Linked DNA regions of Homo sapiens. The protein of the gene in region 1 purifies or fractionates together with the protein of each later gene. This does not show direct contact. Each region holds a gene or a part of one and is shown in the gene's direction. Other genes may lie near its edges.

Region 1 (3,653 bases):
GAGGCAGAGTCTCCCTCTGTCGCCCAGGCTGGAGTGCAGTGGCACCATCTTGGCTCACTGCAATCTCTGCCTCCCGGGTTCAAGCGATTCTCCTGCCTCAGCCTCCCAAGTAGCTGGGATTACAGGCATACGCCACCACACCTGACCAATTTTTTTGTATTTTTTGTAGAGATGGGGTTTCATCATGTTGGCCAGGCTGGTCTGAAACTCCTGCCCTCAGGTGATCTGCCCACCTTGGCCTCCCAAGGTGTTGGGATTATAGGCATGAGCTATCGCACCCAGCCCCCTTCTTTCTTTTTAAAGGCCTTATGCCTTCTTTGGGCTGGAAACTGTTATGTGCCTGTGAGGATGTAAACTCTTTTGCCCCACTGTTCCTATTCTGATTCTATATGAGATATTTCATAAACCCCCGAGCTGAAGAATTACTTTGGTCTCATTTATTTCATAACACTGTTAAGTCACCTGGCAAACAGGAATGTCTGGCTGTAACAGTGATTGTACAAAATAGGTCCTTTCAGAAATGTCGTAGTTGTTATAAGCATAGTTACTGATAAGGACATTTGTTGTTCACATCAAAAACATAAGGGTGGACTTGTGGATTTGTTTTTTTTTTTTGAGACGGAGTCTCGCTCAGTCACCCAGGCTGGAGTGCAGTGGCACGACCTCGGCTCCCTGCAACCTCTGCCTCTTGAGTAGCTGGGGGCCATGCCCAGCCAACTTGTGGATTTTTAAAAAAAATTCTTTAAAAAAAATGTCTGACAAGCCGGGCGCAGTGGCTCATGCCTGTAATCTCAGCACTTTGGGAGGCTGAGGCGGGCAAATCACTTGAGGTCAGGAGTTCGAGACCAGCCTGGCCAATATGGTGAAACCCCGTCTCTACTAAAAATACAAAAATTAACTGGGCATGGTGGCGCACACCCTGTAGTCCCAGCTACTCAGGAGGCTGAGGCAGAAGAATCGCTTGAATCCAGGAGGTGGCGGTTGCAGTGAGCTGAAGTCATGTCACTGCACTCCAGCTTGGGCGACAGAGCGAGACTCCATCTCAAAAAAAAAAATTATCTGATAAAAAAGTGATACTCCATCTGGGGCACATTATAACCAACATTTACTCATAATCAGTGGCTTGTGACAATGGATTGAACTCAGCCTGTCATTACGGAAAACATTTTTAGTTTTCTGGGGCAGTTTATGCCTGGCAATTTTCTTAATATTATAGACCTTTGCTTTGTGTGATCTCTAATAAATAGCTGTATTGATAACTCTTTCAGTTTGGAAGTCTTTTTTCCCTCTATGTTCTGCCCTAATAGTAGATTCAGATCATGTTAACAAGAAGGTATTCTAACAGCTGTCTCTCTGTAACATGTGCAGTGTTATTTGCCCAATTATGTTTTAGCCACTGTATTTCTATATTTCTGATAAGCTTTGTGGAAAACTGGCACCATTACTGATTTGGTTGTTAGTCTGAGGGTTTTTTAAAAAATTGTATTTGTGAAAAATTAAAATTCCTACTTCCTTTTTTCTCATCCTGATTTTATTTGTGTTACAGATCCGAGTAAATAGTTCCAGATTGGTTCGAGTCACCCAGGTGGAGAATGAGGAGAAACTGAAGGAGCTAGAGCAGTTTAGTATCTGGAACTTTTTTTCCTCCTTTTTAAAAGAGAAATTGAATGACACCTATGTTAACGTGGGTCTATACAGCACAAAAACCTGCCTCAAAGTTGAGATTATAGAGAAGGACACCAAGTACAGTGTCATTGTGATCCGGAGTAAGTCTCACCTCTGTTTTTCTGATGGATTCTGTAGTGATAAGGACTGAGTTCTGAAGGGTATAATTAGTGAGACTGAGAAGTCAGCCTAAGACAGCTCCAGTTGGGTTCTGATTATAACCCTGAGTATACCACTGCTCTAAACAGTTCATGGAGACTTCACCCCTATCAGACAGGCCTAGAATTGAAACTCCACCTCAGGAAATTCTGAGTACCTCCTTACCTGGAACTGTGAAGACTTTTATTCTTTTATTCCCAATTACATTGTGCTGCTAATGTCCCTGAGCATATATGCCAAATACTCTTAGAGTAAATCAGATAGACGTGTTCTACCTTCTGGACACTTCTAGACAAAGGTAACTGTCTGATGTGTACATGCCTACATTTAAAGACGTGAATGGTTAATAAAAATTGAAGAAAGGTAAAATTGAAAATCATTCACAAGTAAAAAGAGTATTCATGGAACCATAAATAAAGATGAAGACCACTGCAGTTTAAAACTTATTCAGTGGAACTGGGAGAAGTTTTCTCTTTTCTGAAGATGACTGAGAAAGTTTCAGGGGAGATGGATCCTGTTGAATTCTCTCTGACTTTGTTTCCCCTTGGTTACTACACAGGGTCCTGGGATGTTGTAAGTAGTAGAAATGTTTCTAGGTTTAGTATGAAATAGGTTGTGCCCTTCCATTTGTCCTAGGGTTCTTTGGTTACGTAGGGTTGGCTTGTTTTTTGACGTTCCTTCTACAGTTACTGATTCCTTCTGCTCCTGTTCTGTTTGTGGGCCTCCCGTAGAACTCTTGAATGTGAAAGCTGTGGGAGTATCTGGTATGCCACTAAGGGGCCTTTGCTAGGGCCCCCTGGTCCTGAGTGAGAGGTATTTGCGTGTAGGCTTTTCCAGCACAGTGTTCTGTAGCAAAGGGAAGTAGGTGGTATTGTTGGGCAAGAAAAGCAGCCAGTTAGAGAACAACACAAGGCCCTGACCCACAGTTCTGGGCAAATCTGCTGAGTTCCATGACTGTGAGTGACTTAAAGCTTGAAAGCCAGAGTGATAGAGACCCCTTGTGGGTGATTGCATGAATTGCTGATGGTACTGTGTCTAGCTTTGTCCAAAACGAAGCTTGAGTTTCTTTTAACCTTAGCATAGGTAGCCTAAGTAAAAGTAAGATCTTCAGGCAAATACAGGTTAGACAGAGACCTAATTATACATTGGAAGGGTGCCCAGGCTTTAGGTGAAATTTAAATGCTTTTTAGGTGGGCTGTTTGCATTTATTTTTACTGTAGCTGACCAATAGTGCCAACGTTGTCTTTTATTCTATAATACCTTAAGCAGTTTTGTTCCCTTATTAAGCAAAAATCTTTATTTATTTCAGGATTTGATCCCAAACTCTTTCTTGTTTTCCTTCTTGGACTTATGCTATTTTTTTGTGGAGACTTGCTGAGCAGGTAGGTTCCAAGGCTAGTGTGCAGAATGAAACGGCTCATACCTATCCTGCCTGCGTTTTATAGTAACTATTAAGTACTGCCATTCCCATTTCCAGGACCTTTATGGCTTGGCCGTTGCCTGCTTGGATATTTAAAAAAATACTTTAATGTGTATTATGATTTTTGTTTTTTCTTATTTGAACAATGTTGACAATAGTGAAATTCCCACATTAGGTTGGCCCATCATTAGGTTGATAGGAGTTAGCCAATACAATGAAATGGAACATCATCACCCTTTCTATTGCTAGAAGTAATGTGTTAAGGTGTCATCTTTACAGGTCCATGGGTTGATGAGTTTCATTTTGTTCAGACGTAAAGAAACAAATAGCTTCTGGGTACGGTGGCTCACGCCTGTAATCACAGCACTTTGGGAGGCCAAGGCTGGCGGATCATGAGGTCAGGAGATCG
Region 2 (3,753 bases), on another chromosome or scaffold:
TGTTACTATTTTTTTGCTAACCATAAACCTCAAGGGGTAGAGGAATATAAACATTCTCAACGGGCATCCAATACCTTTAAAATCCATTTTTTCACACACACATGCACACGCATACACACATTATTCTTTTTAACTCTTACACTTCCTGTCAATCTCATTTTTTGGAAATTAAATAGGTATACAGATAAATTAGACAAAGAGAGCACGAGAGAGAGAGAAAGAGAGAACAGAGAGAAAGTCTTTCTGAGTTTGGCATTCTAGTAGGAAGAGGCTATATTAGATTAGATTCTACTTCATTCTTTAATCCCTGCAAGCATCATTTCCACAGGATTCTTGGTGCATGGGTATTCAGCATTAGAATGAACACTTCGTGGGACTTTATGCAGCCACCTGTTCCAATACTATGCACTATTAGAAAGTTATTCCTTAAATTGAATAAAATTTTTCTACCCTATGACTTTCTTCCCTTAATGTTAGTTATACCCTCTGGGCCTACAGAAAAAAGTCTATTCTCTCTTCTGCATGACAGCTCTTCAAATATTTCAACACAACTGGCATGGTTCTCCTTAGTTTTCTCATCCCCAGGCTAAACACCCACAGAAGATTATACTGTAGCATTAATATCTCCACCTTGCATTTCTCTACACGCCCACATGTCTTCTCCTTTGTTACTTTTCTCTAAAACAGTGGGAACAATGAAAAATTATGACATATATGAACTTAATTACATAATCTCAGTCACCTCCTACTTCACTCCCCCACATAGCTTCTTTGCAGACCTTGTAGTGAAGTGCTGTAGCATTTAGAGGAAAGAAATCATTCAGGAATCATTTGTAAACCAACAAGGTTTATTTTAACCCTAAAAATCATAGAAATGTAAAAGACAAGCACATTCTAGAATTAATCATCATTCCCATTGAAGCTATTCATGGTAGCAAAGACTAAATAAATATATGAAAATATTTTATATTTTAAAAATTGTAATGAATTTACAAAATTTACAGGAGCAGATACAGTAACAGGAATCAGCTATGTTGCTACAAGTATATTTTAGAATCAGATTTCCATTTGAATTTCAATTATGCCATTTACTAGCTGTGTGTTCCTATAGACTTTACAAGTAGTATCTGAGTCACAATGTCTTTACAAAGAGAAAATAATTCTTAACTGAGATATTTACTGTAAAGATATAAACAAACCTATGTATAGCAGATTGGAACAAGTTCAGCTTATCTGAAAGCATACAAATGAAAATATTGAAATAAGCAAATGAATGGTTTACAGCACCCGCCTCGGCCTCCCAAAGTGTTGGGATTACAGGCGTGAGCCACGGCGCCCGGCGGGCAAGACACCCTCAGAGCACAGGGTGCTGCCAAGAGCCCGGCCGAGTGCAGCTCGAGCGCCGACGTCGCCAAGGATACACAGTGCTGACGCAGTACACAAGTGCGTCACAGTGGTCCTCCGCCGGCTACGTCAGTGGCTTTCAGGCGCTTTCCTGTTGGAATTGGCGACTGCTGCGGGGCTGAGCGCTGGTTTCACGCGTCTCGGGAGCCAGGTTGGCGGTGCGATGAGGCGCAGCAAAGCCTACGGGGAGCGGTACCTCGCCTCGGTGCAGGGCTCCGCCCCGTCGCCTGGAAAGGTGAGTGGATCTCGAAGAGACCGACGGCCTCGACCTGGCCGGGCGGCGGCCTCGACCTGGCCGGGCGGCGGCCTCGACCTGGCCGGGCGGCGGCCTCGACCTGGCCGGGCGGCGGCCTCGGCCTCGGCCTCGGCCGGGCGGCGGCCTCGGCCTCGGCCTCGGCCGGGCGGCGGCGGCGGCGACGGCGGCCTCGGCCTCGGCCTCGGCCTGGCCGGGCGGCGGCGGCGGCGGCGGCGGCGGCCTCGGCCTCGGCCTGGCCGGGCGGCGGCGGCGGCGGCGGCGGCCTCGGCGTAGGAGCCCGAGAAGATTAGTTGTGGCAATAAAAATGATTAAGGATACTAGTATAAGAGATCAGGTTCGCCCTTTAGTGTTGTGTATGGCTATCATTTGTTTTGAGGTTAGTTGGATTAGTCATTGTTGGGTGGTAATTAGTCGGTTGTTGATGAGGTATTTGGAGGTGGGGATCAATAGAGGGGGAAATAGAATGATCAGTACTGCGGCGGGCAGACCTAGGATTGTGGGGGCAATGAATGAAGCGAACAGATTTTCGTTCACTTTGGTTCTCAGGGTTTACTATAGTTTTTTATTTTTATGGGCTTTGGTGAGGGGGGTAGATGGTAATTTGTATTTAATATTTTTAGCTGAGTGATGAGGAATAGTGTAAGAAGTATGGGGGCAATTATGGTGGGCCATACGGTAGTATTTAGTTGGGGCATTTCACTGTAAAGAGGTGTTGGTTCTCTTAATCTTTAACTTAAAAGGTTAATGTGCGGCGGCGGCGGCGGCGGCGGCGGCCTCGGCCTCGGCCTGGCCGGGCGGCGGCGGCGGCGGCCTCGGCCTGGCCGGGCGGCGGCGGCGGCGGCCTCGGCCTCGGCCTCGGCCTGGCCGGGCGGCGGCGGCGGCGGCGGCGGCGGCCTCGGCCTGGCCGGGCGGCGGCGGCGGCCTCGGCCTCGGCCTCACCTCTCTTACACTTAGAGTCTTTTTTTTTCCCCCAAATTTAAAGTCATTTACATTAGAACCTGGGGATTTCAACGGAATATGGATTAACTAGTGAGTAACTTTGGAACATGTGAAGCTATTCTGTAAAGTTAGGTTTGAGTGAAATGACAAAACAGGGTGCTTTGGATAGAAGGTAAGGAATGGAGGGAGAAGAGGCAGTGGCTGTGAAGAATATAAAGAGGTTAGTATTCTCCCCCAGTTTGGCAGAGGCTGGCCATCTGTGAACTGCCCATGCTTTCTAGAATGTCTGAGTTTTGGAGTGTGATGATGCGTCTGTATATCATATCTTTCTAGTCTTCCATTGTGCTTTCATTTGTTAATCTTCTCTTGTTTTGCCATTTTTCTACTCCCTCACATGTGCTTTTGCCCTTCTTAAAAATATTCTTCGTCTGTAATCCGAGCACTTTGGGAGGCAGAGAGACCAGCCTGACCAACATGGTGAAAATCCGTCTCTATTAAAAATACAAAAATGAGCCGGGCGTGGTGGCAGCGCCTGTAGTCCCACCTACTCGGTAGGCTGAGACAGGAGAATTGCTTGAACCCTGGAGGCAGAGGTTGTGGTGAGCAGAGATTGCGCCACTGCACTCCAGCCTGTGTGACAGAGCGAGACTCTGTCTCCAAAAAATAAAAAAATAAAAAAATATATAATTCTTTCTCTAGTTTTTCTTTTTCCAGATGGCTTCTGTTTAGTTTTTCTATGTTCTGTCAAGTTGGTTTCTTATTCTGCAGCTGATTCCTACTTCTCAAACTCTACTTGACAGCTCTTATTTTTATTTATTTGTTTTTTAGAATAGGGTCTTGCTGTGTTGTCCAGGCTGCCATCAAATTTTTGGGCATAAATGATCCTCCTACCTCTGTTGCCTGAGTACTTAGGACTACAGGCAGGCACCTTTGACAGCTGTTAGTTTTTTTTTCTGCCCTTTACATCTATACTTCATGCTTCTGAGTAACACACACATATACTTTTGTTATTTTGAATTCCCTTTCTCCCATTTTAGACATTTTGTTTTCTTTTTTTTTTTTGAGACAGAGTCTCGCTCTATGGCCTAGGCTGGAGTGCAGTGTCGCGATCTCGGCTCACTGCAAACTCTGCCTCCGGGGTTCACGCCATTCTC
Region 3 (3,653 bases), on another chromosome or scaffold:
ATTCTCATAATAGCTTCAATTTGCACAATGCAACCTCGTCATTTTGCAGATTTTCAAGGCTCACTTCAAAAACATGTTCCTTGAGGCCTATTAACATTTCTTTCCTAAATTGTCTATTCATATGGTGCTTTAAAAAATTAGATTACTTTTAGTAGATTTATTAGAGCCGCACAGTTTAGAGTCAGTAGTCAATTAAAGTCCCTACTTAAACTTCAGACTAAGATTTTTTTTTATTTAATATTTTATTTTTTCTTTTTGCTTTCATGCAGACAGACATCTTGCAAGACTTTAAGATTCTTGGGCCATTTCTGTCAGGTTGTTCTGTGTTCTGTGCCTGCTTCCTCCCCATAGTAATTTCAAAATAGCTATCCTCACCTCTGTAAGGTTTCCGAAATCAAACTTGGGCTTCTGGCTAGCCTTTTCTAGGTCTTGATTTTTCAGTGCTTTCCAGAGGCAATTGTTTGGAACCTCTTGGCACAGTTTCTGTTTCTTCTTCCATGTACAGGCATAAAAGGTCTTTTGGTTGTTTTCTGGTAAAACTATCATAAAACAGTTCAAGCAAATGACTATTGGTAGTTTTGTCATTAACATGGGTGCCTTCTAGTCATTTTGTTTCCTGGCAAAACAGACCAAACAGAGGGAGCAGACAGTTTGTACATCTGTATGAGTGTTGATGTGCTTTTTATTTTAAGCCAGGGAACACATTTTATGTTATTTATGACATCCTTTCCATGAATTTGTCAGGTGATTTTTGAGCTGAACATTCTCAGTAATAGCTTTAGTTTACAAAATACAACCTAGTCTTTCTGCAGATTTTCTAGGCCCACTTCAAATGCATTGACTATCAGATGGCATCTTGGTTCCTTACGTCCTTTCTGTGACTGAATGTCCATAATTCCACATCATACTGATCTTTCTTAGAAAAGGCAACAGTTACTATCTTCTTTATTCCTTTTTTAATGCTTGCGAGGTAGTTCTTGTTGATCACAGCGATGCTATTCTCTCATTCTTCATGTCATATTTAGCAATTTTTTTCTAGTTTGTCATTTGATAATCTTGATTGGTGTATTTTGATGTACAGAAATTTAAAATTTATGTAGTTAAATCTTTCTTTAATTTCTATTGCTTTTGTATTTATAGCTCTTGCCTAGATAGTCTTAACTGTAGTATAGACTTTAACAGTGTTTTCTTTCTTTTCTTTTTTTTTTTTCAGTTGCAACTACTGGCCCTTCAGTATATTATAGTCAGTCACCAGCATATAATTCCCAGTATCTTCTCAGACCAGCAGCTAATGTTACTCCCACAAAGGTAACAAAGGAATAATTTATACATTTATAATTATTTTCTTTTTAAATTGTTTAGGGTTCCTTCAAATAAATTCAAGAGAGCAGTTCACTATTAAAACTTTTATGTCCCTTAAAATGTAGATATTTTAAATTTATCTCCAAATACAGAAATTATCCTTCTCAGTCACCTTATTTTTGTGTTAATAAGTGTGAATATTTAGAATATTTTAAAAATGGGAGTGGTGGTGGTGGATCCTTCATCGTTCTGTTTTAACAGAAATAGAACTGTAATGCCCTTGCTGACCCACTATGTGGTAAGTACTTTCAGGCCTGATACAGCTATATATATAACAATTGATTGAAGACTCAATATTACAGTGGTAGTTGAATGTGACAGCTTTGAGGACAGAGTGTTGGGGTGCATTTAGACCCTTGCTCTTCTGCTTATTTTGACCACAGGCAAGTTTCTTAACCTCTCAGTGCATCAGTTGCCTTATATGTAAAATGAGGATAATAATAATACCTTAATTCATAGGGTTTTTGAGGATATTAAAATGAGATAATAATGTAAAGTGCTTAGAACAGTGCCCAGCTGGCACATTAATGAATGCTCAATAAATGTTATCATCATCATCATCATCATTATTGTTAACATCATTTGATAAATTGTTTAGGAATGAAGAAGGTATTTATTTCATGACTATTTTGGGCATGTGGATCAAGAAAATTCACCTTCATTTATGTTTCAGGGTTCTTCTAATACAGAATTTAAGTCAACCAAAGAAGGATTTTCCATCCCTGTGTCTGCTGATGGATTTAAATTTGGCATTTCGGAACCAGGAAATCAAGAAAAGAAAAGGGAAAAGCCTCTTGAAAATGATACTGGCTTACAGGCTCAGGATATTAGGGGCCGGAAGAAGGGCCGTGGTGTGATTTTTGGCCAAACAAGTAGCACTTTTACATTTGCAGATGTTGCAAAATCAACTTCAGGAGAAGGATTTCAGTTTGGCAAAAAAGACCTCAATTTCAAGGGATTTTCAGGTGCTGGAGAAAAATTATTCTCATCACGATACGGTAAAATGGCCAATAAAGCAAACACTTCCGGTGACTTTGAGAAAGATGATGATGCCTATAAGACTGAGGACAGCGATGACATCCATTTTGAACCAGTAGTTCAAATGCCTGAAAAAGTAGAACTTGTAACAGGAGAAGAAGGTGAAAAAGTTCTGTATTCACAGGGGGTAAAACTATTTAGATTTGATGCTGAGGTAAGGCAGTGGAAAGAAAGGGGCTTGGGGAACTTAAAAATTCTCAAAAACGAGGTCAATGGCAAACTAAGAATGCTGATGCGAAGAGAACAAGTACTAAAAGTGTGTGCTAATCATTGGATAACGACTACAATGAACCTGAAGCCCCTCTCTGGATCAGATAGAGCATGGATGTGGTCAGCCAGTGATTTCTCTGATGGTGATGCCAAACTAGAGCGGTTGGCAGCAAAATTTAAAACACCAGAGCTGGCTGAAGAATTCAAGCAGAAATTTGAGGAATGCCAGCGGCTTCTGTTAGACATACCACTTCAAACTCCCCATAAACTTGTAGATACTGGCAGAGCTGCCAAGTTAATACAGAGAGCTGAAGAAATGAAGAGTGGACTGAAAGATTTCAAAACATTTTTGACAAATGATCAAACAAAAGTCACTGAGGAAGAAAATAAGGGTTCAGGTACAGGTGTGGCCGGTGCCTCAGACACAACAATAAAACCCAATGCTGAAAACACTGGGCCCACATTAGAATGGGATAACTATGACTTAAGGGAAGATGCTTTGGATGATAGTGTCAGTAGTAGCTCAGTACATGCTTCTCCATTGGCAAGTAGCCCTGTGAGAAAAAATCTTTTCCGCTTTGATGAGTCAACAACAGGATCTAACTTCAGTTTTAAATCTGCTTTGAGTCTATCTAAGTCTCCTGCCAAGTTGAATCAGAGTGGGACTTCAGTTGGCACTGATGAAGAATCTGTTGTTACTCAAGAAGAAGAGAGAGATGGACAGTACTTTGAACCTGTTGTTCCTTTACCTGATCTAGTTGAAGTATCCAGTGGTGAGGAAAATGAACAAGTTGTTTTTAGTCACAGGGCAGAAATCTACAGATATGATAAAGATGTTGGTCAATGGAAAGAAAGGGGCATTGGTGATATAAAGATTTTACAGAATTATGATAATAAGCAAGTTCGTATAGTGATGAGAAGGGACCAAGTATTAAAACTTTGTGCCAATCACAGAATAACTCCAGACATGAGTTTGCAAAATATGAAAGGGACAGAAAGAGTATGGGTGTGGACTGCATGTGATTTTGCAGATGGAGAAAGAA

Evidence for each region.
Region 2: the proteins of NEMP1 (region 1) and RGPD2 purify together in Homo sapiens (affinity purification with mass spectrometry; 2 studies listed by BioGRID and IntAct, with this or other methods). This does not show direct contact.
Region 3: the proteins of NEMP1 (region 1) and RGPD8 purify together in Homo sapiens (co-immunoprecipitation; 3 studies listed by BioGRID and IntAct, with this or other methods). This does not show direct contact.

Annotation. Positions count from the first base shown.
Region 1 is NC_000012.12:57,068,787-57,072,439, reverse strand, and holds part of NEMP1 (nuclear envelope integral membrane protein 1 isoform a precursor), read left to right. Parts: intron 1-1,546; coding exon 1,547-1,766; intron 1,767-3,133; coding exon 3,134-3,206; intron 3,207-3,653. UniProt on the Homo sapiens protein: Together with EMD, contributes to nuclear envelope stiffness in germ cells. Required for female fertility. Essential for normal erythropoiesis. Required for efficient nuclear envelope opening and enucleation during the late stages of erythroblast maturation.
Region 2 is NC_000002.12:87,823,544-87,827,296, reverse strand, and holds the start of RGPD2 (RANBP2-like and GRIP domain-containing protein 2), read left to right. Parts: upstream 1-1,500; 5' UTR 1,501-1,567; coding exon 1,568-1,639; intron 1,640-3,753.
Region 3 is NC_000002.12:112,388,630-112,392,282, reverse strand, and holds part of RGPD8 (RANBP2-like and GRIP domain-containing protein 8), read left to right. Parts: intron 1-1,213; coding exon 1,214-1,308; intron 1,309-2,035; coding exon 2,036-3,653.